Homo sapiens: one gene and its partners. The gene in region 3 interacts genetically with the main gene of each other region. Each region holds a gene or a part of one and is shown on either strand. Other genes may lie near its edges.

Evidence for each region.
Region 1: changes in TRAPPC12 (region 3) and RAB1A are lethal when combined (synthetic lethality), as found in Homo sapiens cells (2 studies listed by BioGRID, with this or other methods).
Region 2: changes in TRAPPC12 (region 3) and PTAR1 are lethal when combined (synthetic lethality), as found in Homo sapiens cells (one study listed by BioGRID).
Region 4: changes in TRAPPC12 (region 3) and RAB1B are lethal when combined (synthetic lethality), as found in Homo sapiens cells (one study listed by BioGRID).

The regions. Positions count from the first base shown.
Region 1 is NC_000002.12:65,120,084-65,127,111, forward strand, and holds part of RAB1A (ras-related protein Rab-1A), read right to left. Parts: intron 1-7,028. UniProt on the Homo sapiens protein: The small GTPases Rab are key regulators of intracellular membrane trafficking, from the formation of transport vesicles to their fusion with membranes.
Region 2 is NC_000009.12:69,709,025-69,715,039, forward strand, and holds the end of PTAR1 (protein prenyltransferase alpha subunit repeat-containing protein 1), read right to left. Parts: 3' UTR 501-6,015; downstream 1-500.
Region 3 is NC_000002.12:3,459,681-3,466,708, reverse strand, and holds part of TRAPPC12 (trafficking protein particle complex subunit 12), read right to left. Parts: intron 6,447-7,028; coding exon 6,373-6,446; intron 6,066-6,372; coding exon of another isoform or gene 6,006-6,065; exon of another isoform or gene 4,111-6,005; intron 1,113-4,110; coding exon 1,014-1,112; intron 456-1,013; exon of another isoform or gene 1-455. UniProt on the Homo sapiens protein: Component of the TRAPP complex, which is involved in endoplasmic reticulum to Golgi apparatus trafficking at a very early stage.
Region 4 is NC_000011.10:66,264,161-66,271,638, reverse strand, and holds the start of RAB1B (ras-related protein Rab-1B), read right to left. Parts: upstream 3,001-7,478; 5' UTR 2,960-3,000; coding exon 2,946-2,959; intron 1-2,945. Other genes in the region: KLC2 (kinesin light chain 2), read right to left, coding at 4,683-4,766, 5,149-5,206, 5,422-5,546, 5,627-5,785, 5,876-5,984, 6,404-6,471, 6,567-6,616, 7,195-7,294 and 1 more. UniProt on the Homo sapiens protein: The small GTPases Rab are key regulators of intracellular membrane trafficking, from the formation of transport vesicles to their fusion with membranes.

The DNA of each region.
Region 1 (7,028 bases), about 62 Mb from region 3:
TTATAAATTTAGCTATTTGACTATTTTTATAAATTTCATCTAACCCACTTTAAGACTAACATCTTAAACTCCACATTTTAAAACTCAAATTAGGCCGGGAACAGTGGCTCACACCTGTAATCCCAGCACTTTGGGAGGCCGAGGCGGGAGGATCACAAGATCAGGAGTTTGAGACCAGCCTGGCCAATAAGGTGAAACTCCGTCTTTACTATAAATACAAAAAATTAGCTGGGCGTGGTGGCGCAGCCTGTAATCCCAGCAACTTCAGAGGCTGAGGCAGGAGAATCACTTGAACCTGGGAGGTGGAGGTTGCAGTGAGCCAAGATCACACCACTACACTCCAGCCTGGGGGACAAAGCGACACCTTGTCTCAAAAAAAAAAAAAAAAAAAAAAAAACTCAAATGAGTTTGGGATACCAGATTTAAAGCTAAGCTTTGTCACTCTCAGATTTTCACATTTTAATATTGATAATGATAGTTAACATTCTCTTTTCTGTTTTCAATCTCCTAAATCAAGTATTCTTAATCTGAGGTTCATGAACAGCCTTGGTGTGAACTGCCTATAACTTTATGCAAAATGTTATATGAGTATATAGACACAAAGGGAGCAGATGCATCAAATGTAACGTGAGTATGGCTACACGACCATAAATGGGTTAAATGTAACAGTCCCAAATCAAGATACCAGAAAATATCTATAAGGAGAGTAGAAAGGACAAAGAGTAATTCCACTTAAGTACTATTATTATACAAAGGAAATACATTCAGAGAAATTAAATCCATCATTGTTCTTGGAAAACATGAATTACATAATTCACTGAGTTTCACTGTTGAAGATCACTAGTTTGAGACGCAGACTGCACAAAATGCCCTATGTAAAGACCATAGATGGCCAAGTGAGGTGGGTCACACCTGTAATCCCAACACTTTGAGAGGCTCAGGCAGGAGGATCACTTGAGCCCAGGTGTTCGAGACCAGCATAGGCAACATAGCGACATCTCATCTCTTAAAAAAAAATTAGCCAGGCATGGTGCCAGTTACTCAGGAGGCTGAGACAGGAGGATCACTAGAGTACAGGAGGTTGAGACTGCAGTGAGCCATGACTGTGCTACCACCACTCCAGCCTGGGAGACAGAGCTAGATCATGTCTCGAAAAAAAAAAAAAAAAAAACCATAGCCACGTGGCTGGCACCGAGTAAGTGCTAAATAGCACCTAGTATTATTAAAAAGTGATGTTTCCAAAAGAATGGTCCCTCTTGTGAATAAAGGCATGCATATTTAACACTACTTGTCCTAATTAGGAAATCTACAAGCATAGAACACAGTAAACTTAACTGGAACCTATCACAACCTTGGATTTAATAAAGCAGTGTAGGGTGTTCCAGCCAATTGAGCCAACCTGTCACAGAAGTACCAAGGAAAACTATTTCCTACTTCTTCTGTACCCTATCTCTCACATGTTTCAGTCAGCCAACAAACTAACACTTAGTTCTCTGGCTCCTCAGGACCATTTTTCCCCTGAATATCATTCCACCATTACCCTATTAATAATCTGCAACACTCCCAGGGTGGTTCCAAAGAAAGGCCAAGACCTAAATTTTCTTCCCTAAATTACATTCCAGATATCAAAGCAGTAATCTCAGCCCCACCTTCTATAGGGAAACAAAGGAATAGTCTAATTGCTCCCCTCTCCCTCTAAAGCGGGGGCCGGGGGGGAGTCTGGGCATTTTGCCTAATTCTCAAAGGAAAATTCCAAAATGTAGTGGCGACAAAGTGGTAAAAAGCTGATAAGCAGCCAAACGTAGTGGCTCACGCCTGTAATCCTAGCACTTTGGGAGACCAAGGCAGGCGGATCACCTGAGGTCAGGAGTTGGAGACCAGCCTGGCCAACATGGTGAAACCCCATCTCTACTAATATAAAAATTAGCTGGCCGTGGTGGTGGACGCCTGTAGTCCCAGTTACTCAGGAGGCTGAGGCAGAAGAAATGCTGGAACCCGGGAGACAGACGTTGCAGTAAGCCAAGATTGTGCCACTGCACTCCAGCCTGGGTGACAGAGCAAGACTCTATCTCAAAAAAAAAAAAAAAAAAAAAAAAAAAAAAGCTGGTAAGCTACACATTTAAAATACCTCATGCACTGGCACACTACACCCATTTTCAGTTTTTCTTCATCTTAAGACACTCAGCCAAGCGTGGGGCTCATGCCTATAATCCCAGCACTTTGGGAAGCTGAGGCAGGTGGATCTCGAGACCAGGAATTTGAGACTAGCCTGGGGCAACATATTGAAATCCCATCCCTACAAAAAATACAAAAAAAAAAAAAAAATTAGCCAGGTGTGGTGGCACGCGCTTGTATTCTCAGCTACTCAGGAGGCTGAGGTGGGAGGATCACTGAAACCCGGCTAGGAGTTGGAGGCTATAGTAAGTTATGATTGCATCACTGCACTGTAGCCTGCGTGACAGAGTAAGACCCTATATCTCAAAAAACAGACACTCAAAGTTGATTAGCAAATTTTTTTTAAATCTCAAAACGTTAAGAAGCATCTTATTTTACCCTAAACATGTTCATATATTAGGAAAGTATATAGCTTGCCACAAAAGAAAGCTATTCTGGCCAGACGTGGTGGCTCACGCCTGTAATCTCAGCACTTTGAGAGGCAGAGGCAGGTGGATCACAAGGTCAGGAGATCATCCTGGCTAACACAGTGAAACCCCATCTCTACTAAAAAATGCAAAAATTTAGCTGGGCCTGGCGGCGGGCACCTGTAGTCCCAGCTAATCGGGAGGCTGAGGCAGGAGAATGGTGTGAGCCCAGGAGGCAGAGCTTGCAGTGAGCCCAGATCACACCACTGCACTCCAGCCTGGGCAACAGAACAAGACTCCGTCTCAGACAAAAAAAAAAAAAAAAAAAAAGCAAGCTCTTCTTTACTATCCAAAATAAAACTGAACTATTCAAACTACAAATAGTGAAACCATCACATAGGTATAGTCAAAACTACCCAGAAGAGAAAACACACACATACACAACACACAGCCAACAGATTGCTATGGAAGGTGAATATAGCAGGATGTTAGCACATACGTAAATTTTTTTTTTTTTTTTTTTGAGACAGAGTCTCGCTCTGTCGCCCAGGCTGGAGTGCAGTGGCGCGATCTCGGCTCACTGCAAGCTCTGCCTCCCGGGTTCAAATGATTCTCCTGCCTCAGCCTCCCAAGTAGCTGGGACTACAGGCGCCTGCCACCACGCCCAGCTAATTTTTTGTATTTTTAGTAGATGGGGTTTCACCGTGTTAGCCAGGATGGTCTCGATCTCCTGACCTCGTGATTCGCCCACCTCGGCCTCCCAAAGTGCTGGGATTACAGGGCACATACATAAATTATTAAGATTGCTTCCAGAATTAAAAAGACCAAGATACCTGAGAAATAAAATTACTCAGAAAGCAAAATTCCCTTTAAAAGCCAAGTAGAAGCCAGGCGCGTGGCTCACACAAGTAATCCCAGCAATTTGGCTGAGGTGGGTGGATCACGAGGTCAGGAGTTTGAGGCCAGCCTGGCCAACATAGTGAAACCCTGTCTCTACTAAAACTACAAAAATTAGCCGGGTGTGGTGGCACACACCTGTACTCCCAGCTACTTGAGAGGCTGAGGTGGAAGAATCACTTAAACCTGGAAGGCGGAGGTTGCAGTGAGCCGAGATCACGCCAACGCACTCCAGTGACAAAGTGAGACTCTGTCTCAAAAAGAAAAAAAAAGAAGCCAAGTAGAGAACTGGCAAGGAAGATTTGATTTTGAAGCACTTCCATCTTTAAGACAACGTTAAAAAAAAAAACTAAACTAAAATATTTGATGGTTAAAAACTGTCTAACATCCCTCATTTTAACTTAATTTGATTAAAGGGGGAAATTTTTATTTTTTATTTTTTTGAGACAGAATCTCACTCTGTCACCCAGGCTGGAGTGCAGTGGCCAATCTTGGCTCACGGCAACCTCTTTTTCCCAGATTCAAGCGATTCTCTTGTCTCAGCCTCCTCAGTAGCTTGGGACTACAAGCGCACACCACCACGCCTAGCTAATTTGGTGTTTTTAGTAGAGGCAGGGTTTCACCACATTGGCCAGGCCGGTCTAGAACTGACCTCAAGTGATCTGCCTGCCTCGGCCTCCCAAACTGCTATTACAGGCGTGAGACACCTCGCCCAGCCAAAAGCGGGAAATTTTTTAATGCAAAATTTCAGGCTGGACATGGTGGCCCACCCAGTGCTTTGGAAGGATCGCTTGAGGCCAGGAGTTTGAGACCAGCCTGCACAACATAGGAGGCACAGTCGCTACAAAAAAATTTTTAATGTGAAATTTCAGTTGTTATCTTCATTTTATTTTACTTTATTTTGAGACAGAGTCTTGCTCTGTCGCCCAGGCTGGAGTGCAGTGGCGCAATCTCAGCTCACTGCAATGCCCACCTCCAGGGTTCAAGAGATTCTCCCGCCTCAGCTTCCCAAGCAGCTGGGACTACACGCAGGCACGACCACACCCAATTAATTTTTCTATGCTTAGTAGAGACAGGGTTTTGCCATGTTGGCCAGGCTGGTCTCAAACTCCTGACCTCAGGTGATCTACCGCCTGGGCCTCCCAAAGTGCTGTGATTATAGGCATGAGCCACTGTGCCAGGCCTCAGTTCTTATCTTTAAATGATCCTACAAGATTATCTCATCATCTCATTCACACAAAATTCTCAATATATATATTTTAAAGGTTTTATACAACTACTGAATACTTAAATTACCGGAAGAATTACAGATGGTGATATTCTATAGACATTTAAAAAATCATATTCTGGACAATGAGAATACTAGTTATCTTTCTTCTTTAAACTTTTCTGAGTTTTTCAAACCACCACCAAAAGTCACAAAGACAACCTGCTTTCACTTTCAAACACTTAAGTTTTGTTAAAAATTATTTGAAACACAATGCAAGCAAAAAAAAAAAAAAAGGTCAAATGTTTCTTGAGTATAACATGAAAGAAGAGCAAAGTCTGAAAGACTGATAACATTTTCAGAGATTCTGGAGCCATGATATACTTAAGGGGATGGGGGCTAAAAATAAGGTAAATACTTTAAACTTTTTCTGCATTAAAGAATTATAGTTGATCTAAGTAGACTACTATATTTCTTCCTACTATAGTTAGCTGGTATACTGAAGACAGGTAGACATGCTTTATTCTTAACACATTCCTTAAAGATGAACCAATCAAAATTATTTTCTTGACACTAAAAAAATCCACTGGAAGCCAGTGGATTATGAAAAATGTTATGAGAATAATCACGAGAATAATGTTAAGTATTTCTTTCTTTTTTTTTTTTTTTTTTTGAGGAGTCTCACTCTGTCCCTCAGGCTGGAGTGCAGTGGCATGATCTGGACTCACTGCAGCCTCCGCCTCCCAGGTTCAAGTGACTCTCCTGCCTCAGGTTCCTGAGTAGCTGGAATTACAGGCGTGCACCACCACACCCAGCTAATTTTTGTATTTTTAGTAGAGGCAGTGTCTCATCATGTTGGCCAGGCTGGTCATGACCTCAAATGATCCGCCCACCTCGGCCTCCCAAAGTGCTGAGATTACAGGCGTGAGCCACTGCGCCTGGCCATGTTAAGCATTTCTTAATGTGCTGAAATAATCACTGCCTGCTTCAAAACGTAGCTCAAAAAAAATCCACATTTTTCTTCAGATCCTCAAAAAAAAGCTTTAACCCTTTCTATCTACTTTTTTAACTGTTCAGATTACACTTTCAATTGCCTTTTTTTTTTTTTTTTTTTTTTTTTTGAGACAAGTCTTGCTCTGTTGCCCAGGCTGGAGTGCAATGGTGTGATCTCGGCTCACTGCAACCTCCACCTCCGAGGTTCAAGAGATTGTCCTGCCTCAGCCTCCCGAGTAGCTGGGATTACAGGCGCCAGCCAACACACCCAGATAATTTTCTGTATTAGTAGAGATAGGGTTTTGCCATATTGGCCAGGCTGGTCTTGAACTCCTGACCTTAGGTGATCCACCTGCTTCAGCCTGATCAACATTAGAGATGGCTGGGTACTCTATACAAAAATTAGCTGGTTATGGTGGCAAATGCCTGTAATCCCAGCTACTCAGGAGACCAAGGCAGGAAAATCGCTTGAACCCAGGAGGCAGAGATTGCAGTGAGCCAAGATCGCGCCACTGCACTCCAGCCTGGGTGACAGAGTGAGACTCCATCTCGAAAAAAAGAAAAAGAAAAGAAAACAAAAACAAAAAAAAACACAAACAGCCAGGCACAGTGGCTCACGCCTGTAATCCCAACACTTTGGGAGGCCAAGGCCCGGGCGACAGAGCAAGATTCCGTCTCAAAAAAAAAACAAAACAAACAAAAAAAGTAATACAGCTACCAACTCTTATGTAAACCAATATAAATCTAAAAATTCTGTTGCTTCAGAATCTTTTTTCTCAAGATCCCATTTTCACTACCAAATTTAGCAGAACCCATTAACAAAGATTATAAATTTCTAAAAGAAACAATATAAATTGGTAATGATAAACCAAAGTAACTTAAGGAACATCTGGAGTACATTTGTAAACATTAGCTAATATACCATTGTTAGTTATTAAGATAACATACTGGAAGCAGGAAAAGCATCCACCCATTAAAGTTTTAATTGAAGAGAAAGCAAGACTTTGGAGTTTGGAACAAGATGTTAAAAACGAATGAGCTTGTATTTGCGTGATAAAACACTAAAGAACTTTTCTTTCTTTCCTTTATTTTCCAAATTTTCTCTAATTACTTTTATAAAGATAACAAGCTTCATTAAAACAAAAAGAAACTGCTTAAGTCAGATTACTAAAAATCTGATTGCTCACTGCCCTTGTGACCTCCCCTAATAAAATATCCCTCACTTCCTCTCACCCTAAGTAATTTTCACTAACACTTTTGCAAAGGTTTTCTCAAATTCCTGTATTATTTTACTAAACAGTCTAGAATACAAATATAGTAGGCCAGATACCCATGTATTTGATCCCAGA
Region 2 (6,015 bases), on a different chromosome or scaffold from region 3:
AATATTTAAAATTTGAGTTAAAAAAAGTATCCACTTTATCAAACACTTTTTGGAGTCTATCTATGTATTATATTGTGTAAGTAAGACCACTATATCTGGCTTATAACATACAGAAGTGAGACTCAGGATTGAGAAAACATAGGATGTAACACTAAAATAACCGAGTAATTATATGTGCTCTACAGCTTCATTTGAAATGGATGGGAAAAAGCGTATCTAGTCATAATAACTTTTATAAGGCAATTAGTCACTGTTAATACAATTTAAAAACAACTGTGGCGATATCTCTAATTTGTTTTTGACATTTCTTTTATGTTCTAGACATAGTGGCATTTTTATTCTTTCTACAAATGTAGGTCATAAAATTATTGGTTTCATTTAGACAACAGTTCACACCTCCACCCCCCTACCACCATCAAAGCAAATAAAATGGAAAGCTTGGTAGACTAGACTCAAGTTTAAAGCACCAAAAGTAAAAACAAAATCACACTTAACACTCATTTTAGGAGATAAAAGGTTTACTTAGAAATTGCAAACATTTAGCAAAGGTAAGACAAATACTATTTTCCATATTCTACAGAAATACAATACTTTATAGCTGGCTTGGTACATGGTCACATAAGAACAAATCTAATGGAAAAAGAATATTTCATTCTACTTTTCTGCCACTTATCACAGTGTAATAAGTGCCAGTAAGTCCTGGAAGACAGTTGCAGAGGAAGATTAGAATCCCAGGGCTGTTTGTTAATATACATGATTATATTGTAAGAATAATATAAAAACAAAATAGGTAAGATATACAATTAACATGCAATTTAAGCTATATTATTTTGAAGAAACAGGACAGAATTTAGTGAACGCAACTTAAAAATTTGTTAATGTAGTATAATCAGCATATCATGGTATTTTACATGGTATGGAATTATTCCTCCTTAATAATGCTTGGCAAATTGGAACAGGCTGATCCTACTTCTAGAACATATTAAAATGAAGATGAAGGAAAACAAGTGGATAATTCTATTAGATGCTTTTCTAAATATTCTGAATTTTTAAAGTACCATAATTACAGGCCTACCTCACCATCTCCAAAGTTAAAGTCATATTTTATACTCTATGAATCTGTACTGTCCAGTATAGTAGCCCTTAGCCATATGTGACTACTGAGCACTTAAAATGTGGCCAGTCAGAATTGAGATGTGCTGTGAGTGCAAAATACACTCAAATCTAAGACTTAGTATGGAAGAAAAAGAAGATAAGGTGTTTCATTAATAATCTTTTATATTGATTACATGTTGAAATGATATTTTTAATATACTGGGTTACATAAACTGTTATTAAAATTAATTTTGCTTGTTTCTTTTTTAATATGGCTACTAGAAAATTAAAAATTATGTTGTGGTTCACATTATATTTCTGTTGAACAATGTGGACATAGATAATCTACAGTCATTACATTAGCCTTAGAATTTAGCATCATACTTTTAAGCACTCTGGGGTACTAACTTGAACTCCCAGAAACCCATAAGCACACTCTGCATATAAATTATTGCAAAATTCATTCTTATCTCTCTGAAAGATATGCATTTTAAGGGTAAAAAGAATTCACAAAATATTGAATCCTTAACAAATGTCAATTAGTATATGGAGAGAGCTAAAGGACTTCAATGTAGACTGTTACATTGGGGAAAAACAGATCAAGAAACATAGCAGTACAACAGAGGGAAGACCATTAGTCTCTTCAGTAAAATAGTTAGCCAAACTTATCTTTAATGGCCAATGCCTGACCCTGCACCATAGATTATATATGTAACTTTTCCATTTAAACATAAACTATAAGAAAATCTTAAAACAATATTGACGGCAGCTTACTTATATCTTCAAGCAATGTAAAATTAACAGGCATGGTTAATTTTAATGGCAGAATATAGTAGCTGAGAACTTCTTTTAAATGAAAGCTCCTCCATGTTAAATTATGCAATTGACTAGTGTCCACAAAATTCGAGTCAAAAAAAAATTAGACGCTATTAAAATCATAACTGGCCTTTTTTTTTCTCCCTCTCCTTTTTTAATCTTTTGTAGTGTATAAATATTTGGCATACTTATAATACCTCATCTTTTATTTTTTCCAACTCAAAAACAGTAAGTTAATCTAAGAATGCATTCCATTATTTTCCTAAAAACAACATATGCCAAAGTACAATACTGACAGTGGTCACCTCAGTCAGCAGCCAGCATCGAAGTCATGCATCAAGAACCTCGCCAGGAGGCAATGCCTAATTACATTTGTACTATACACTCTGTTCCTCACAGTTCAGGTAGGAATGTTTATTTGTGTTTTATAAAACTGTTTAATCTTTTTACATTAGGTAAACTCTGTCAAAAATGCTTTGAAAACCACAAATTAACAGATGCTGAGACTACTGTATCATTCACAAAAAGTTCTTCCTCATGCCAAAGATGTTCTGAGAAAACAAGCAGAAGTTTATTGTAACTTCACATTTTACCATTACCACTCTTAAGACGCTAGAAACAAGTAAGATTTAAGGAAAAATAAAAAGAACCTAAACCCGATAGTACTGGATATACCAATACAGAGACTGATTGCAGAAGACTACAGCAGTTCTCTCTAGAGTTCAGCCAGCTGCTTATTAAGACATTTAATTACATTTATTAATATGCCTTGCACAAGAAAATACTACTTAATCTTTCACATCTCCTATCTTTCAACTATGTTCTGTATAAATAATACTTCTATTACGTTACTAACTCCAGCTTAAATAAGCCTCATAAATCATGTCAAATGATATAATTTCAAAATTCCACACATATATTACTCTACAAATATACTCCTTGGTGAAAAGATGTCAACAGTCTCCTTTCTGAAAGCTGTTAGTTTGATGTTAGATCAATCACTGACTAAGCATTTATTGAGCATCTACTATAACTGTACCCAGTCTTTAACTAATAAGAAAAAAATACCTGCTCCAAATGCAAGATGATATTTGTAAGGGAGGATAATTTATCAACTTTTTCTAATAGAATGCTCCTTGAATCAATATCTGCCATATGAAATTATATGACAAGTAAACCTCAAATTTATTACCTATCACCTTATAATGATAAATAAGCAATCTAAAGTATGCTGCATAGTACCTTGAGGAAAGTGACTGCTATACTTAAAATTAAGGCTGATTCCTAAAAGGTATGGAAGAAAAGCCAGAATGTTATTGTTTGTAAACCACTAAAGACTTAATATGAACAGTTTACATAACTATCTGGTTAATTTGGGCAAATGAGCACTTGTGTTTGGTTTCTAACTTTGCTGGAAGGTGTTGGTCTAATAAAGAAAACTGCTTTAAGTAGGAGCACTTTTAGCATACACAAAAATAAAAATCCTTTGTAAATTTCACTTGCAATGTTGTGCAACTGTATATCTTTGCCTTATGCATTTGAAACTGATTATGTATTTTATGCAAAATGGTATATTTTTCCCAAAGCTAAGAATATGGACAATGATGATATGATAGCTAAGCTAGTTTTATCTTTCTAGCTTTTATCAACTCTTGACTTGTTGAATTCCTACAATGTGCAAGGCAGTATGCAATGTGTTGAACATATATGAGGTCTACACATAAAACAAAGGGAAACTGAAGTCTTTGGAAGCAAAATAGTTGTCAATTTGAAAACCAACGGTAATCATTTTCCTCAACAGTATTTCTAAAAGTTGAGAATGATGTCAACTAAAACAAAATACAATCATCCCCACCTCTACCAAAGATGGAACTATAACACAGAAATCATTTCCACAGAAGACACGAGAATGTTCATACTAGAGCCATAGGGACCAAAGCAGCAAGATAAACAATGAGGCAGTCACAGAATATCTACTAGCTACTGTACTGGTAATAGTTTATAAAAAATACGATCTATACTAAAATTTAAGAGCTAATAATATATTTAGCATATTTTTGCCTTTTCTTTTTGCCACTGAATATAAAATTTGTCCTGAATTTACTAAATCTTCTACACCCTGAGGAATAACAACAGACTAATAAAAGTAACGTCAGGGTTAGCTTTCTGGACAATAGAATCATCCAGAAAGCACAAATTATATATAGCTAATATTCTTGGAAGCACAAGGTTTCATCAGCAGACTAAACTACTGCCCTGTATTGTTCTTAGCAAAGAGTTTGGTTTTACAGTGTTAACATGGCCTGGTGAGAGTAGAGAAGTCAAAGTTGGGAGCCTGAGGTTTCCTCTCCCACCTGAGATCCACAACTGATTCATTGGTTTTCTGTCTTCACCATGAACATGGCATATTGCTGCCCTTTAGGAATATATTATTCAACAGTTCTCTGTAAAAGCACTTTGGAATCTTTAGCTATATATTTCTATGAAATTATATTTGCTATCTTGAAATATGGAATTCCTATCCCTCCCTTCTCCATATACAAACAGATAAAATGATACATTTAAAATTTCATCTACGCATTTACTTCTTTTCCTCCAATACCTGAGAGAAAGCAAGTACTGTTTTCCCCCTTTCAACTATATTACATTATGCCTGAATTTGAGAGGGAAGGAAGGTCCTAAAGTAAGGCAAAGGATTCATTTAGGACAACGTTCTGGCCTTTATTTTAGGGCAGAGTGCCACTGTTTCCCTTTGGACGCAGGTTTCAGGCTAATCTATTTGTGCACACACCATCCTCTAAATGGGATGCCTCCAACCCCCAAAACGTTAGTTGCCAGAAAGAAAGAACTAAATCTTGGTAGGGTGCTTAAAATGATAACTAATGGAATAATCAAAGCATCCTGCCTGCTTATATCAGTCTCTCACTGAAGGATAAAATACCCTACGGGGCCATGCCTAGCGATGGGAATAAATAAAACAATGGGCCACAATCAACTGTTTGATAAAACTTCCATCCTGTTTTCTTAAACATTAAATATAATCTTGCTCCCAAAAAAGTAAGAAAGGCACTCGAATTAACACAGTCTCTACAGTTATTTTTTAAAAGACACTATGTGACAATAAGGAATTCTTAGGGTTGATTTTTCTTCATTAACTTCTCAGTGCCTCCACACATCTCTCCATTAAATGGGAGCTTATTACAGAGCATACCTAGGTATGGGGAGGCAGCAACACATAAAGTGCTAGGGTTTGCACAGTTCTATTTGAGAAATTTATTCAAGACAAAAGGTTCAGTTGTTATCAGGTTCAAATTTTCTAGCATACTTTAAATATCTGTAAGTTTTAAAATATAATTTTCCAGTAGCAAAATAATAGTTAGCTTAAAACAGCTTTTTAGAAAAAAAAAATCATGTTACTTCCCTTTACAACTAAATCTTTAGCATCTTCTATAACTCAGGGGAACTAAGGTAGGGATTATTAGATTGTTGTACAGTAGGTGGTATCTGCCATCTTGTGCTATGTAAGAGAAAATTATTAAACTGACAATTTGTTTGCTTCAATACTAAAAATTCCTTTTACACACACATACATGTGTGTGTGGCCCAACAAGAATAAACTGGCATGACCTGAACATACCTAAGTGGCATACGATCTACTATGTATTTGCTTTCCTGCAAACTACTGCATAAAAATCCAAAAACTTTTGTTTCCGTATCTTGTATCACATAAGCCCTTATTTAAAAATTTAAGTACTTTTAGAGATAACCTGTATATATTTAACCCTACTAATAATTAAGCCTTTAAGTGAGAACTGTACCATAGGAATAAGAAATATGACTGAAAGTCTGGGCCCAGAGTTTCTTAAGAGGTAATAAAATGCTAAAATCTACAGAAGACAAAGGGGACATTAATACATATCAAATCCCTAAGCTTAAAAAATGACTCATACAGATTTAAGAAATATCTGAAAGAGTCACAGTTCAAGTTGCGGGGAAAAAAGGAGAAGCATAAAATGATATGTGCACAGGTACAGATCAGTAAGTCACTGAAATCAAAGAATTTCTTCAGATGATTAAAAGCAGTTTCGGCTCTGTATGCAGGAT
Region 3 (7,028 bases):
GGGCTGTCCTCCAACACTATCTGGTGTCCCATGTGGACTTCCACAAGCAGGCGGCGTGCAGGAGATGGTGTGTGCACGTGTGCCTACGTGTGTCAGTGCATGTGTGAGCAACTGTGTGGAGGGGGAGAGGACCAGCTGTTAGCTGAGAGTGCAGGCCCTGAGTTCACAGAGGCCCTGTTCAAATTCTAGCTTCCCCATTATCTATGTGGCCTCCTGTAGCTGGATATCACTTAACCAGGAGACCTCAGTTTGCTGATCTGTAAAACAAGCCAGTCACACCGTGAGGTGAAATGCTCAGCGCAGGGCCTGGCTCACCGTGAGTGGGTGCCTGTGGAAGGTCTGTGCTGCTTCTCCCCGCTCAGCCATCCCTTGCTCGTGCCTCCTTTCCCTGGCCCAGGTTTGGGACGTGACCTAAGACTGAGGGTGAGAGGGGCAGAAGCTGCCCTGTGCTCCGCCTGCAAGGGTGGGATTGACAGGGATGTGGGCGGGACTCATCACTCCCTGTGACCTCCCTGTCACCAAATATTCCAGGAAAATGCATTCCAGCTTCAAGGACATTCTTAGCAAAGGGGGTCCTGCCGAGCTTTGTGCATTACTGAGACCACTGTTCAGTCTGGACTTTGTCTGTCCAGCAAACATGATTCAAGGGTTATTTCAGGCAAAATATCAGCGAGTGACTATTACGGGATAAGCTGAACTGAGATTCCTCACGGTTTAGTCAGTGCTTTCGTAACTGCAGCAGGACAATGTCTAGAGTAACTCATTTCAGTGTGGCTGTGATGACACTTTCTGTGGGTTCACATTTAGCAACAGGCACAAAAGCCAGCAGGGCCTCCCACAGTCAAACCAGAACTCCTGGAAAGAACCCACCCTTTTCATGGTCACATACATTTGAATTGGAATATTTTCTGCAGTCTTTCTTATATTAAAATGATTAAAAGCAAACAGTCGCCCATCTGAGCAAAGAACTATCATAAGGCCTTTCTGGCTCATGTCTGACCGTGCACAGGTACCTGCAGGGAAATCCGGCCGATGCCGCTGAGCAGCTGGGGCTCTTGCTCTGGGTAATACTTGATAACCGAATGATACGCCTCCACGGCCAGCACATAATCCTGTGGGAAGAAAAACCCAACGTACTTTAGAGCTGAGAACAGCACTGTGGGTTTCACACGTGTAGAAGAGCACAAGTGTATACAGACGCGGTGTAGAGAGAGGACACGCTGACGCAGGAGCTGGCGGGGAAGCTGGAAACCAGCACGCGGTGCTCGGCTGCCAGGGGGCGGCTGCTCTCCCGACTGCAGTCGGGCCGGGATTCTGAGCTGTGCGCATCGCAACGGCGGGGTCCTGCCTGTCACCGGGGGCTGTCGCGGTTTAGTTGGGCCTGAGGGTCTGTTTCCTGCTTCCATCTTCTAAACAGCGATTCATATTTCACTTGGACTGCACCTAACTCTCTTTCCTGACAAAGTTATCATGTGAGTTGGCGAACGCTGTCTCATCTCCATCCTCCAAATACATAGGCCAAATTTTTAAAGTGTCTCTTAAACGTTTTCTATGCTAGAAATTAAGGTCAAACCTTTACATGTAAAGAAAAACCACAAAACAAGTTTGCTGAGGCTGAGTATGTGATGGAGGTCGGCCTTGCAGAGTGCGTGAATGTCGTGTGCTCCGTGCGGCACGCATGAGACCTTCCCGTTTTAGAGACAGCTACGGGGGAACATGTAGGAGCGCTGTGCCAGCTGCCGTGCTCAGGGCATCTGGTTTCTGCCAAAGGCCTTTGCTGGATTCCTCATCGCTCTGCCCTGCCTGTGGTGGTCTGGCCCGTGGCCCCTCCTCAAGGGCAAGGCCTGGCAGCACAGTCTCACTGTCCATCTGCCCACTCATGCCGGCCCATCACAGCCACTTGCTGGACGCTGAGCGGACCCAGTCACCCTTTCCAGGTGTGAGCAACGCGGTCTCCGTGCAGGAAGGTCTTGCCAAAGTCACGTGGGACACAGTGGTAGCTTGTCTCAAGTCCCCAGCAAACCCGGGCTCTCTCCAGGATGACAGTGATCGCCGCATTTATTGAGCGAGCTGTGTGCGGCAGGCCCTGCACTAAATGCTCCCCTGCATTCTCGCACTTAGCTATAAGCACGCGGTCAGCAGTAACTATGGCCACCAATGGTGTTTTTCTTCTTACTTACTCATCGTATAATCCCAGAGGTACTTTTATTTCTTTATTCTTCTACATGTTCCATTTCCTCCAAACTGGGACTGGAGTTACTGGCTTGCTAATTGGGATGTTACAAAGAAAGACAGACAAGTACAATTCCAGTTTGGTAGGAAGGAAAAAACAAAAAAAACCCAAAACGACTCTCTCCAGTCTAGTACCTTCGAGTACAGCTCATTAAAACTAATTTTATTCAAGGCCTGACGCCCATGACGAGCCAGACAGCACATGCCTCGGTCTCCTTTCCCACGCCTTCCTGCTGCCTGTCTCTGCTGTCTAGCTGTGCGAGTGCGAGCATGTGTGTGTAAGCGTGTGTGAGCATTGTGTATGAGTGTGAGCGTGTGTGTGAGCATGTGTGTGTGTGGACGTGTGTGTGTGAGCTCCCTCACACAGGGGAGGGCTTTGTGACCTGGCATGGGGGCACTCGGGGCGGCTGAGGTTGCAGCTGGGACGGACATGGCACCCCAGATGCAGCTGTGGGGCCTGCACACCCTGGGCTGGCCCTGATCTGAGAAGTTTAGGGGAGCAGCCCTGCTTTCCAACAGAGGCTGCACTCACCAGCTTGCACCAGCTCGGGGAAAAGTAGCAGCTGCCCCCCTAGGCTTCTCTGGGGAAGGAAGTAGGCTTCCGAGCACCCATCATGCTGGGCAATGTCTGTTCTAATCCCACACATGTCCCACCTTTGGTTTCAAGTAAACAAAAGGCAGGCTTTGACTTTCTTGTTATCAGCCCGGCAGTGTCACTGGGTCATTCCAGTGCCCCACTCACGCCACTGATGCTCCAGGCTGAGGCGGCCACCACAGAGAGCGCAGGGTGGGGGCGTGGTGGGGGCGCAGCACTCACTGCTAGTGGGCGATGCCGTGGCCAGCCGCATCACCCTAACCGCTCTTTCAGTGCTCAGGGCCAGGGGTCAGTGTTTCTGAAGATAATCTAGTATGACAAAAGACAGGTTTTTACGAAACCAAGCCATGCTCTTTGATGGGAAGTTACTTTAGGCATGGCTCTTCCCAAAGAGCACGTGCACAGGCCTGGGAGCCGTGTGAGAGGAAGCTGGATTCCAGGCCGGGGGCAGGCGCGGCAGAGAAGGGATCTCGGGGGCCCCTGCACCCGCCGGCAGCCACTCCCACCAGCTCAGCAACAGTAGCGCTCGCCAGTCCCTCAGGTGTGAACATGACACGTGTCTGTGTGTCCGGGCTGCAGTTGGGGGAAGAATTCTGGGGCACTTCAGGGGGCCCATCGTCAATACAGCAGATGAGGATTTGGGATTGTGTTACAAAGTTTCCTTAGGTTGACGGTTACTTAATGACTTTATTTACTGAAGAGGAAACAGCCCTTCACAGGTAAAATGGCCAAAAGAAGCTCCTCAAGAGAGCTTAACCTACTCTCCAGATCCTGTGGATTTGGCTTTTGTAAAGGACATGAATGACTTACTTCCAGGGACAAGTCTATTTTAGCTCAATCTTCACCATTTCTTTTCAGCAGCCACACGTGTTTACAGGCCGTGAAACTAGATTTACAACCATTCTGCAACCAGCAAGGACTTCTGCAGTCTAATTTCAGCAAGACGGAAGGTAGCTGATGCAGCTGCGTGCTCCTTTCCATCATGTGCGGAGCCACGGCGGGTTCTGATGTGCATACTGGCGAGCTGTGGGGACACCAGGAGGGAAGTGGCCTCCCAGGGGCACCCGGGGGAGGGGGGGCCCAAGCCACCTAAGGTGGCAGGCACCTGCATCCATATGGTCTGCCAGTGCAGGTGCCCTAAGGCTACAGTGAGGCCTAAGGAGAGGAAGAAGTATTTAAAAAGTGAAGATAGTGACATTTTCAATGCTTTATAATACATGCCACTGTGCATTATAGCATATCATGCAGATTTATCCAGGGCTAAAACGTATGAATACATTTCATTGCTAAGAAGTTAAATTGGTATTTATTTCACTGTAATAAAAATGTTATTCAAGATAATTAAATGGCTGATTAAATAACTCATTGTTAGCCCATATACATAATTTAATTAACAGGATACCCCATATTATTAAGATCACACACTGTTGCAATACCCTGTATGCTCACTAGATGGCAAGAGAGTGCATATGCTTGGCTTGGCTTTAATTGCAACATTTTTGCCTCCTTTTTTTAACTCATGAAAATGAAAGCTTAAGCTGAACTTTCAAATTAAATCATGTCCATTGTAAAAGTATTTTTGAAATGCAATAATATGTTCTGTACTGAGTCCCAGCAATACAGGAAGAAGACTCACATTCGGAGCCTGGTGGTGGTGTTACTACCACAGTGCCACAAAGAAAAGCCCATTCCGTCGTTTTCTATTAATGTGTCTTAAAATGCAAATGAAAGCCCGCCAGTGGAACAGGGAACTTTCCTCCCTGGGGAGTTTTAGCCCCATGATTAGTGAAACGTCAGTCCTGTGAATTTATAATTGATTCTTCATGTCTTTGCATAAGAATGTTCCGGCAAGCTGGTGACTTTCAGGTGACGCTGACAATGCCCTCAGCAGGTGGAGGCCTACTGCGGACCGCCCAGACCGCCAGGTGGGGGTGTCAGGGCTGGCCACAGGCAGCACAGGGAGAATGGCCTGTTTTGGGAGGCAGAGGGGTCAGGCCGGGTGCTTCGGGGTCACCTGGTTGCTGGCCAAGCCTTGGGTGGTGAAGAGGCCACCAGGGCAGGGGAGCAGGAGGGCCTACTTTTCACTCCCACTCAGAGGTGGGCAAGCCCTGCTGCAGAAGCCAGAGGGGGCTGGAGAAGGGAAGGGGGCGGGTGGGAGGAGGGTGAGGACCAGAACAAAGCACCTGTGCGGGCCACCTGACCTCAGTGGGACTATCTCAGGAGTGGCAGCGGAAGAAAAACCTGCTCTGAGCAAAACCACAGAACTTGAAAACCGTAATTTCCTTTATCCAGTGTGTTGAAGGAGAGGAGAGAGCTGTGTGAATGTCAGAGCTGGGAGGGATTTCAGAGATCTCAGATCTATGCCCTTATTTTAAGGAGGAGGCTGAGGCTTGCAGTAGTGCGAGGCTGCGTCACGGTCGCTTGCTACCGAGGATGAACAGGACGCCGAGTCTCCTTGTGCGTCCAGCCTGACGTAGACGCAGAAGCGCAAAGGCAGCGGCCCCGCACTGGGCACTGGGGCTGCGCTAAAGCCGGGGTGCGGGCTGCACGTCTTCCTGATGGAATGCCTGAGCCACTGATGGCTGTGAATCTATACCCGCACCCAGCCTGCTCGGAGCAGTGCCCGGGGTCACAGTCACCTCTGGGGATGCTGCAGGGTCCGTGCATAAAGCAGGGCTGCCACTTCAGGGTTCATGACAGAGCCCGTGAGCACAGTTCTCCGCTGGTAAATTGCCTGCTCTGCCTTGCTGAAAATCAAGCTCAGGAATGACCTTGGCCCCATGAAAGCCGCATGGGTGTGGGAGTTAAGGTCGCTGTCTTCGAACAGCCCAGGAGGTGTTACGAGCACTGCTCCGGAGCGCCTGCTGCTAGCTGATTCCTGCAGTAGCTCTCAGTACGCACAGCTGGCTGCAGGGACACTAGCTCCACACAGGGCACCCTGATGCCCAGTGTGGGAGGTGAGCCAGGTGTGGGGTGCGTTCCAAACAAAGAGAGGAGCCAAAAAACACCGTTGCACAGGCTGGCGAGAGCCAGGAGACACGGAAAAACAGATGACAGCCTCAGTTCAGCTCCTTGATTTCTAAGCTGTTTCCCTGCGGGCTGAGAGCTCTGGGGTGACGTCCTAAGAAGGTCTTGTGGGGAAGCCTGTCTTCAGGTGTTGTAAGCATCAATCATAAAATCAAAACCATGAGGTGAAAAAAACACCCTCCACGAAGATAGGGAGAACAAAGGACACCTTCTGGGGATGGAGTTCAGAGAAAAATGGGGGAAAATGAACAATACTTTTAATTAAATCATTTAGACCCACATTTCAATAATGAAATCTGATCATCTAAATTCTACATTCTGTTGAAATTTCTTGCAGTAGAAATAAAGTACATATAGCCCCATAATGTGTCACTGGGCTCCCTGTTAAGCCAGTACTTAGCTGGCTTCTCTGCACGGCCGGTCCCTGCCAGCATCTATTATACCAGCGGCTCCCTCGCGGCTCCCACTGACCCCGCTCTTCCAGATCACATGGCAGCCCTGCTTGGCCACCCACGTACCTTCATCAGGAGCAGACAGTTTGCCATGGAGTACATCACCCGGCCCAGACGTGACCTCCACAGCCGGATAGAGGCTACAAGGTAAGAGCAGCCTGTAAGTGCACAAATAAATTCGAGGCTCTTTCTAGCCCTCAATTACTGGGTCCTGTGAATTCTAATTTAACTTTAAAAGATCCCTCTTGTTAACACCACTGGATTTCGGCCTGGAATGCTGAATATGCTGCAGGCTGCACTGAGGCAGAAAATACAGCACTCGCATTGGGACCAGAGGTGGCTTTGGGAAGAGACCCTCGGCATCAGAGAACCAGGAGGGTGGCTGCTCAGCATCAGCCCAGACACAAGGCCAAATGGTCCGACCGGGGGCCCCGTTTCCAAAGCCAGAACCCTGAGAAAAGGAGCAAAGCTGACAGAAACGACGACATTGCCTGCAGCTCGACAAGGCTGGGAGGGCCACTGGCCAGGGTGGCCGCCAGCCTCTCGCAGTTGACCTATGGGAGGCCACCCGGAGGGCCCCACCCATGCCCAGCCATGAGGCCTCCCCTGCCTCCCGACCATGGGCTGGTGCAGACGCCGGTTCCCCCAAGGAGTGCTACACCGTGTTCCAGAACTCAAGTGGCTGGCACATTCCGCTGGGGACTCGGCACTCCCCTGCAGCT
Region 4 (7,478 bases), on a different chromosome or scaffold from region 3:
AGTGCACTGAAGTGATCACGGCTCATTGCAGCCTCTACCTTGCGGGCTCAAAGTGATCTTCCCACCTCAGCTTCCTGCGTAGCTGGGACTTCAGGTGTCCACCACCACCACCACTTCTAGCTAATTTTTTTTTTTTTTTTTTTTTTTTTTGAGACTGAGTTTTGCTCTTGTTGCCCAGGCTGGAGTGCAATGGCGCGATCTTGGCTCACTGCAACCTCTGTCTGCCGGGTTCAAGCAATTCTCCTGCCTCGGCCTCCCGAGTAGCTGGGATTACAGGCACCTGCCACCATGCTTGTCTAAGTTTTGTATTTTTAGTAGAGACAGGGTTTCACCATGTTGGCCAGGCTGGTCTCGAACTCCTGACCTCAGGTGATCCACCTGCCTTGGCCTCCCAAAGTGCTGGGATTACAGGTGTGAGCCACCACACCCGGCCCCTGGCTAATCTTTTCATTTTTTGTAGAGATGGGGTCTCACTATGTTGCCCAGGCTGGTCTCAAACTCCCGGGTTCAATTGATTCACCTGCCTTGGCCTCTGAAAGTGCTGGGATTACAGGGGTGAGCCACTGCGCCTGGCCATCCCTTGGTTTAGAATACTATGGTGCTCACCAGATCTTCCCAACAGTCCCGGTCAGGGAGGGCTGATGCCTCCCTCCACAAACAGCTAGCCCAAAGGGCTCTCAGCTTGCTGAGTCTAAATTCTCACTTTATGGAGAAAGAAATCAAGACACGTGACCTGCCAAGGCAACAGAGCTGGGTATCCTAACCTGATTTCTGAAACTTCATGGTTTGGTCCAGTAGGAGCTATTTAGGGAATCCCCAGTACATGCCCTGCGTGTGCCTAGCTTGGCAGAGAAGGCCCCAGAAGTAGAAGCCAGGGCCCAGCCTAGAACCTATTAAGTTGAAAACCCACGTAGAGAGACTGATGGCTGGGTGCTGTGGCGTGTGCCTGTGGTTCCAGCTACTGGGGAGGCTGAAACAGGAGGAGGATCCTTGGAGCCTAGGAGTGTATGACCAGCCTGGGTGATGCAGCACAACCCCGTCTCTCTTTTCTTTTGTTTTTTCGAGACAGAGTCTCGCTCTCTCACCAGGCTGGAGTGCAGTGGCACGATCTCGGCTCACTGCAACGTCCGACTCCCTGGTTCAAGTGATTCTCCTGTCTCACCCTCCAGAGTGGCTGGGATTACAGGCATGCGCCACCATGACTAGCTAATTTTTGTATTTTTAGTAGAGACGGGATTTCACCATGTTGGCCAGGATGGTCTCGATCTCCTGACCTCGTGATCCACCCACCTCGGCCTCCCAAAGTCCTGGGATTACAGGCCTGAGCCACCGCACCCGGCTAACCCCATCTCTTTGGAGACAACAACAACAACAACAACAACAACAACAACAACAACAACAACAAAAACCTGTTATGAAGTCACCAGGAAGAGGTGGTCAAGTTGCAGTGAAAATTGCACTTAAGGCTGGGTGCAGTGACTGACACCTGTAATCCCAACACTTTGGAAGCCCGAGGCACGAGAATCATTTAAGCCCAGGAGTTTGAGATCAGGCTGGGAAACATATCGAGACCCTGTCTTTACAAAAAATTAAAAAATGTGCCAGGTGTGGTGGTGTGCCTCTGTATTCCCAGCTACTCAGGAGGACAAGGCAGGAGGACTGCTTCAGCCCAAGAGTTGGAGACTGCAGTGAGCCATCGTCACGCCACTGCACTCCAGCCTGGGTGACAGAGAGAGACCCTGTCTCAAAATAAAAAAAAAAAAAGGCAAAAGGTAATCACATTTAATATACTTGAGTTCCAACCTGTGGACGGACCCTGTGTGAAGTACTTTAAATGCATCATCTCATTTAATCTTCACAACAGTTCAATGAAGTCAGTTTTGTCATTGTCAACTAATGAGGAAACCAGAGGCCAGAGAAGGGAAGTGACTTGCCCTAACTTACACAGTTTATCGCTTTAAGACTCAAACCAGGTTTCTCAGACTCCAAAGTCCCTTCGAGAGCCTGCTGGTTCCCTTCTCTGTTCCCCTCCCAATCCAGCTCAGAGCTTCACCCTTCCCCAAGGAAATCTGAGACCTGGATGTGGAGTAGAAAAAGGAAGTGGCAGAAAAGGAAGAAGATAACTGATACTTGGGGAAAACTATTAGTCCTGGGCATGAGATGTGGGCCACCTACCCGCAGGGGGAGTGACCAAGAGTGAGGAGAGTTTGAGGACCAGAGAATCCCACAGGAAGGGGGAGAGCAAATTCCATATTCATCTAAACTTCACAGGCAGTGTGACAGCCAAGGGAAGGGGTGTGACGGTGGCGTTGGGGGCCTGAGCAAAAGCGAGGAGAGGGCGGGAAAGGACGGACCGGCGGGAGCGACAGGACAGCGCGACCCAGGCAAAGGGTAGGAGGCAGCCCCGGAAGAGAGGACCTGCGGGAGACGCGACCCAAGCGGCGCTTCGGGGCCTCCCGCGTAGTTGGCTAGCTTCTGGGCCGGCCCCAGGAGCCGGGCTTCAGGAGAAAGAGAAGGGTAGAGGGATTCACTGCCCGACCTAAAGGGCCCAAGCCTGAACCCGAGACCAGAAACTATCAAGACGGGCTCCAAAACTCCGGGACAGTTGTCAAGCAGCAGGTGGGGAAACTGAGGCCTGAAGTGACCGGGACTGCGGGGTCATCTGACCGATAAGGCCTGGTAGGACCGATGTCTCGAGCTCCAAGAGCTGCCCCTGGGGGTCGCCACGTCTGGGCCCCGGGTGCGAGGGCTCGGGGTTTTGAGCCGGGGTCCTGGGGCCCCTGGGGGGAGGGGCAGAACCCGGATGTGGGGGGGGGTCAGCGGAAGAGGGACCCGGATGTGGGGGCGCCGCACAGTCCTGACCCGGGCCAGACAACCCCGGTAAGCGTACAGCCCTGTATTCGGGATCGAGGCTGCGCTGGACGGCGCGGGCGGGGCTCACTCACTATTCGGGGTTCATGGCGGCGGCGGCGGCCCGCTCGGTCGCTCCCAGTCGACTCTGCTCCGCCTCCCGTTCCAAGATGGTGGCCGCTCCGCCCCAGAGGCCCCGCCCGCGACGCGCAGGCGCAAACGTCTTCTTCTCAGGCCTCGCCGCGCTGATTCCCGGAACTTGTAGTCTAAGACGTTCTCCAACTCAGCCCCGCTGCGCAGGCGTAGTCGGGGAGCCCGCGCCTCCGCGCCCACTCCCATCACTGCTGGCGCATTGCCTTCTGGGGCTTGTAGTTTGCACTCCGGACGCACTCAGGCTTGAGGACAGTGCTGGAAAGCCTGACCGCGACTCGGTGTTTAGAAAGCTCAATTTAGGGCTGGGCTTGGCACGTTTCACATCTGTCTGACGGAGGTAGTCATCCTTGCCCTCCCAATACCCACGTTGTGAACATTAAATGAGAATGTGGGTTCTAGTAAGACTAATAAAAGTACATTTGTCCAGGGTTCTTCGTGTACTGGGCAGTCCTAACTCGCAGCCGCGCGTCATCACCCGCATTTCATAGATGAAAAAACTGAGTCTCGGGAAACTCACTCAAGGTCAAAAACTTTGTGAGGAGCAGAGCTCATAAGAGCCCGCGGTCTCCAGAACCCCACAAGTGAGTGTTTTAGGGAAAGCCTGACTTGTGGGCCCCTCACGCAATTCCGGGGTGGGGCACAATATCTGGGCCCAGCTGCGCGGACAGCGGTTGAGCGAGACACACTGTCCCCCACTCACGCACGACCCTTCCCGGCTCCACCCCAGTCTAGAGACGCTGGGGGCCCCCGACCTCCGTCTCAAAACAAGCCCAGCTCAGATTTAAACCGTCTTTATTTCTACAGCAACATCTGAAAATATGAGAGCAGCCGCCTCACCCGCAACAGGGGGAGCCCCTCCTGCCACCAGGGGACCGTCGCCGCCCCTCGCGAGAAGCTGCAGGCGTGGGGGGAGGCGAGGCAGGATGGCTCGGTGGGCGGTGCCCGGGGCGGGGTCGGCCGTGCCTGGGCGGGGCCGGGTGGGAGGGGCAGTGCATAAGGCCGGGATGCGGGGCAGGGCCCGGCGGTGGGAGGACGGACTAAGGGGAGGTCCCCGTCCTGGGCCACGGGGCGATGGCGCGGGTAGGACGCATCCCTCAGAGGCCAGGAGGAGCGCGAGAAGGTCCCAGGACCCCCTTGGGAGGCGCCGCTCCCGAGAATGTAGAGCCTGGGAGATACCACCGCACGGAATGGGGGTGATTAAGGCCTGGGCGGTACCACTAGAAGAGGGACGAGGGGAGGCCCGGGTAGTACCGTGGACTGAAGGGAGGCGCGCGGCCAATAACTTATTTCTCTATATACAGAAGCAACGGCCGGGTTGAGTCGGGAGGGAGGGCGAGGGTGCCGAAGGGCCGGCGAGTGCTTAGTGTTCTTGGCTCTGGGGTCTGGGGAGGCCAGGCCACTGAGTCTATGGTGGAGACTCCAGCCGGCACCTCCTGCTGGCCCGAACCTAGGGAAGAGGGCCCTGCTGGAAGGAATAAATAAGGGATGGAGCTGGAGTGGGCAGGCCCAGCCTCCAGGGCTCAGGCTGAGATGACAAGGGAGAAGGTTACCCTGAGATTGAACAGAAAAGACAGGGGCTGTGGGAGAGACAGGCGGGACAAGCAGCAGGCCCATGCGCAGGGCTGGGGTGAGGGGGGTGTGCCAGGTGGGCGCTCTGGTGACTGGCTGCCCCTTCAGCATTAGCCCACCAGGGAGCTTCGTCGGGAGAGGTCCATGGAGCTGGAGCTGAGAGTGCGGCTGTCAGAGAGACCTGTGCCTCCAGGCTGTGGGCAGAGGGGGCAGGTGGCTCAGCCCTGTGCTGCTGCCAGTCTGTGCCTCCCTGGCCTGAAGGGGTCTGACCTGGCAGAGGCAGCCGGAATCCCTGAGCTGGGCAGAGGCAATGGCAGTTCTGACCCAAGGCCACACCCTGGTGCCCTGACACTCCCGTCCATCTCCACAGTGACGGTGTTAGCACTGGCCGTTTACACGTCCACCCCCAGGAGAGGCTGGGTTCCCCTCGTGTCTCCCCGTTGTCCAGCCCAAAGTAGGCCTGAGACAGAGCCAGGAACTGTTGCTGGATGAAGAGGCATGCTGGAGGGAAGCTTGGCAGCACGCATGCAGCCCCGGCCGCAGCTGCCCAGTGCCCAGACACCCGCCTGCCCCTACCTGGGTCGGCTCTTCCACGCTCTTGTTGAGGAAGTTGAGGGAACTGGCCCGCTTCATCCTGAGGGAAAAGGACAGCCTGGGATTTGCCCAAGGAGGAACTCACGGGAGATGGGGGCAGGGAGAAGGGTGGGGCTGGGGAGGGAACAGACTGGTGGGTGGTGGAGCCTGAGAGGGATGGGGAGGTTGCCTGGGGTCAGTGGGGCACACTCTGGGTCAGGAGCTCATCCGGGGTTGCTGGGTGGTTCTTGAGGCTCACCTTGGTGGGGGGCTCACCTGGGGTTAGGGGGCTCCTGGGGGGTGCCCCCCTGCAGCTTCTTTACCAGCATCTCACTGCTGCGCCTCAGGGCATCCCGGAGTTTCCCAAAGGAACCGCTGCGCCTCAAGGAGCCACTGCCATCCTGCAGGTGGACAGGCTTGCCTCTAGGCCCCGCTGGCCACCTAGGCTCCCAGCCCGACCCGGCCCAGGCCCCGGACTCACCCCATTCCACTCAGCTGTAGGTCCCACGTCCTCGAGGTCAGACTCAGACCGAGGCCCGGCACCCCCAGCCATGTCTCGGCTGCTGCGGCGGTCTCCCCGCCTGCCACTGCCATCTTTCAGCAGTTCTACCACCTTGGTCTGGCTTGCGGGGTCCAAACCCTGAGGGAGGGGCAGGGGCATCAGGCAGTGAATGGACCACACCCAGGGCCACACAGGTGTCTGCCCACCCCCTCCTGCATGGAGCCCCACCTGCTTGCGGTTACGGCTGGCACAGTCCTCTAGTGTGTGCGCGGCTTCCAGCTTGCCCTGGCGCCGGTATAGGGCCCCCAAGCTGCGCAGGGTGGTGTTGACTGTGGGGCTGTGGATGGGACAGTCTCAAACTCCATGTTCCCCCAGACCCAGGGCCCATCCTGGCACCCAGCCCACAGTGGGCCCTGAGGAAGCATGGACCTCCGGGGTAGCCAGAATCCATTCCTTCCCATGTCAAGCCCTGTGCTGGGCCCACCCAGCCTCTTCTGTCCTGGGGAAATCACCCCAGGGCTGGGGACCTGGCCCCAGGGCCCTCATGGGATGTTGTCACCAGGACCAAAAGCTGGGAGACCCAGAGCCAGAGAATTAGGCTGAGAATTGGGAGACAGAGCCTTCTTGGGACAGGTGACCTGTGAGTTGGGCCTTGCCAGATGAGCAGCAGAGGAGGGGTGTGTTGGGGGTGAGAGTATGGAATGTGGAGCCCGCCCTGCCGTGCCCTGCTCCCCAGCCCAGCCCCGCCCCACTCACCTGTCTACTTTACAGGCCTTGTACCAGCTGCCGTATTCCCCATAGGGGGCGCTGTCCCGGCGCTTATCCTGGAGGAAAGAATGGTCACAAGAAGTGAGAGCAGGCCCCCCTCTGCACATCCCAGCCTCCCCTGACAACCGCCCAGCCTGCCCCACAGAGCTACCTTGCTTTCCTCCCGCTCCTCTGCGTGCATCCAGATGGGCTTGTTGTCCCCTGGGGAGAGAAAGGGGACTGTCACCAGCCTACCATATAGGTCTCACCTGGTTGGGCTGGACACAGGACTGGGGTCAGGGGAGGGGAGACCACGGTTGGGCTTCGTTGAATGCATGAACAAGAGTAAGACCCAAAACACTGCTGACCCTCTTCTGGACAGAGATGAGCAGAACAGACCCTTGCACCTCAGGCCACAGCCCAAGACATGTGCTAGGCCTGAATGATGGGCCAGGCTCCGAGGGACTCAGGAGCAGATGACTGACCATCCGGGGCCAGAGGTGGTTTCCCAGAGTGGGAGACACTGGGGCAGGCCCTCAAGGTGAGCAAGAATCGCCAGTGGAGAAGGGGGATGCAAAGGCGTGTGAGGCCCTAGCAGGCCAAGGGGGCTGCGTGAGTTGGGTGTGTGCTCATGTGTGCAAACGTGAGCACAGGTGGCTGGGCACCATCTGAGGGTGAGGCTGGTGACCAGCCAGGCCAAAGCCTGAGGGCCTGCCCTGCTGAGGGATTTGTCCTGGGTGCTGATGGCAGAGTGGGCCTGGGATGGATGGGCTAGAGGCACCTGGTGACCACGCACTCACCATTGACAGAGCCAAACTCTTTCTCATGAGCGCGGGTGAGGATCTCCTTGTACAAGGTCTCCGCATCCTGGTACTTGCCCTGCTTCAGGTAGCAGGAAGCCTGGAAGCGGGAGACCCAGAGAGTGAGCGGGATGCATGCAGCCAAGCCTTTTTCTCTCCTTCTTCCCCAACCTCATCCCTGCCTCCCTCCTTCCCATCCTCCAGCTCCTCTCAGCCCCAAGGTACCAGGTTGTTCTTGGTCTTGGCCACATTGGGGTCATCGGGCCCGAGGCGTGTAGCATAGA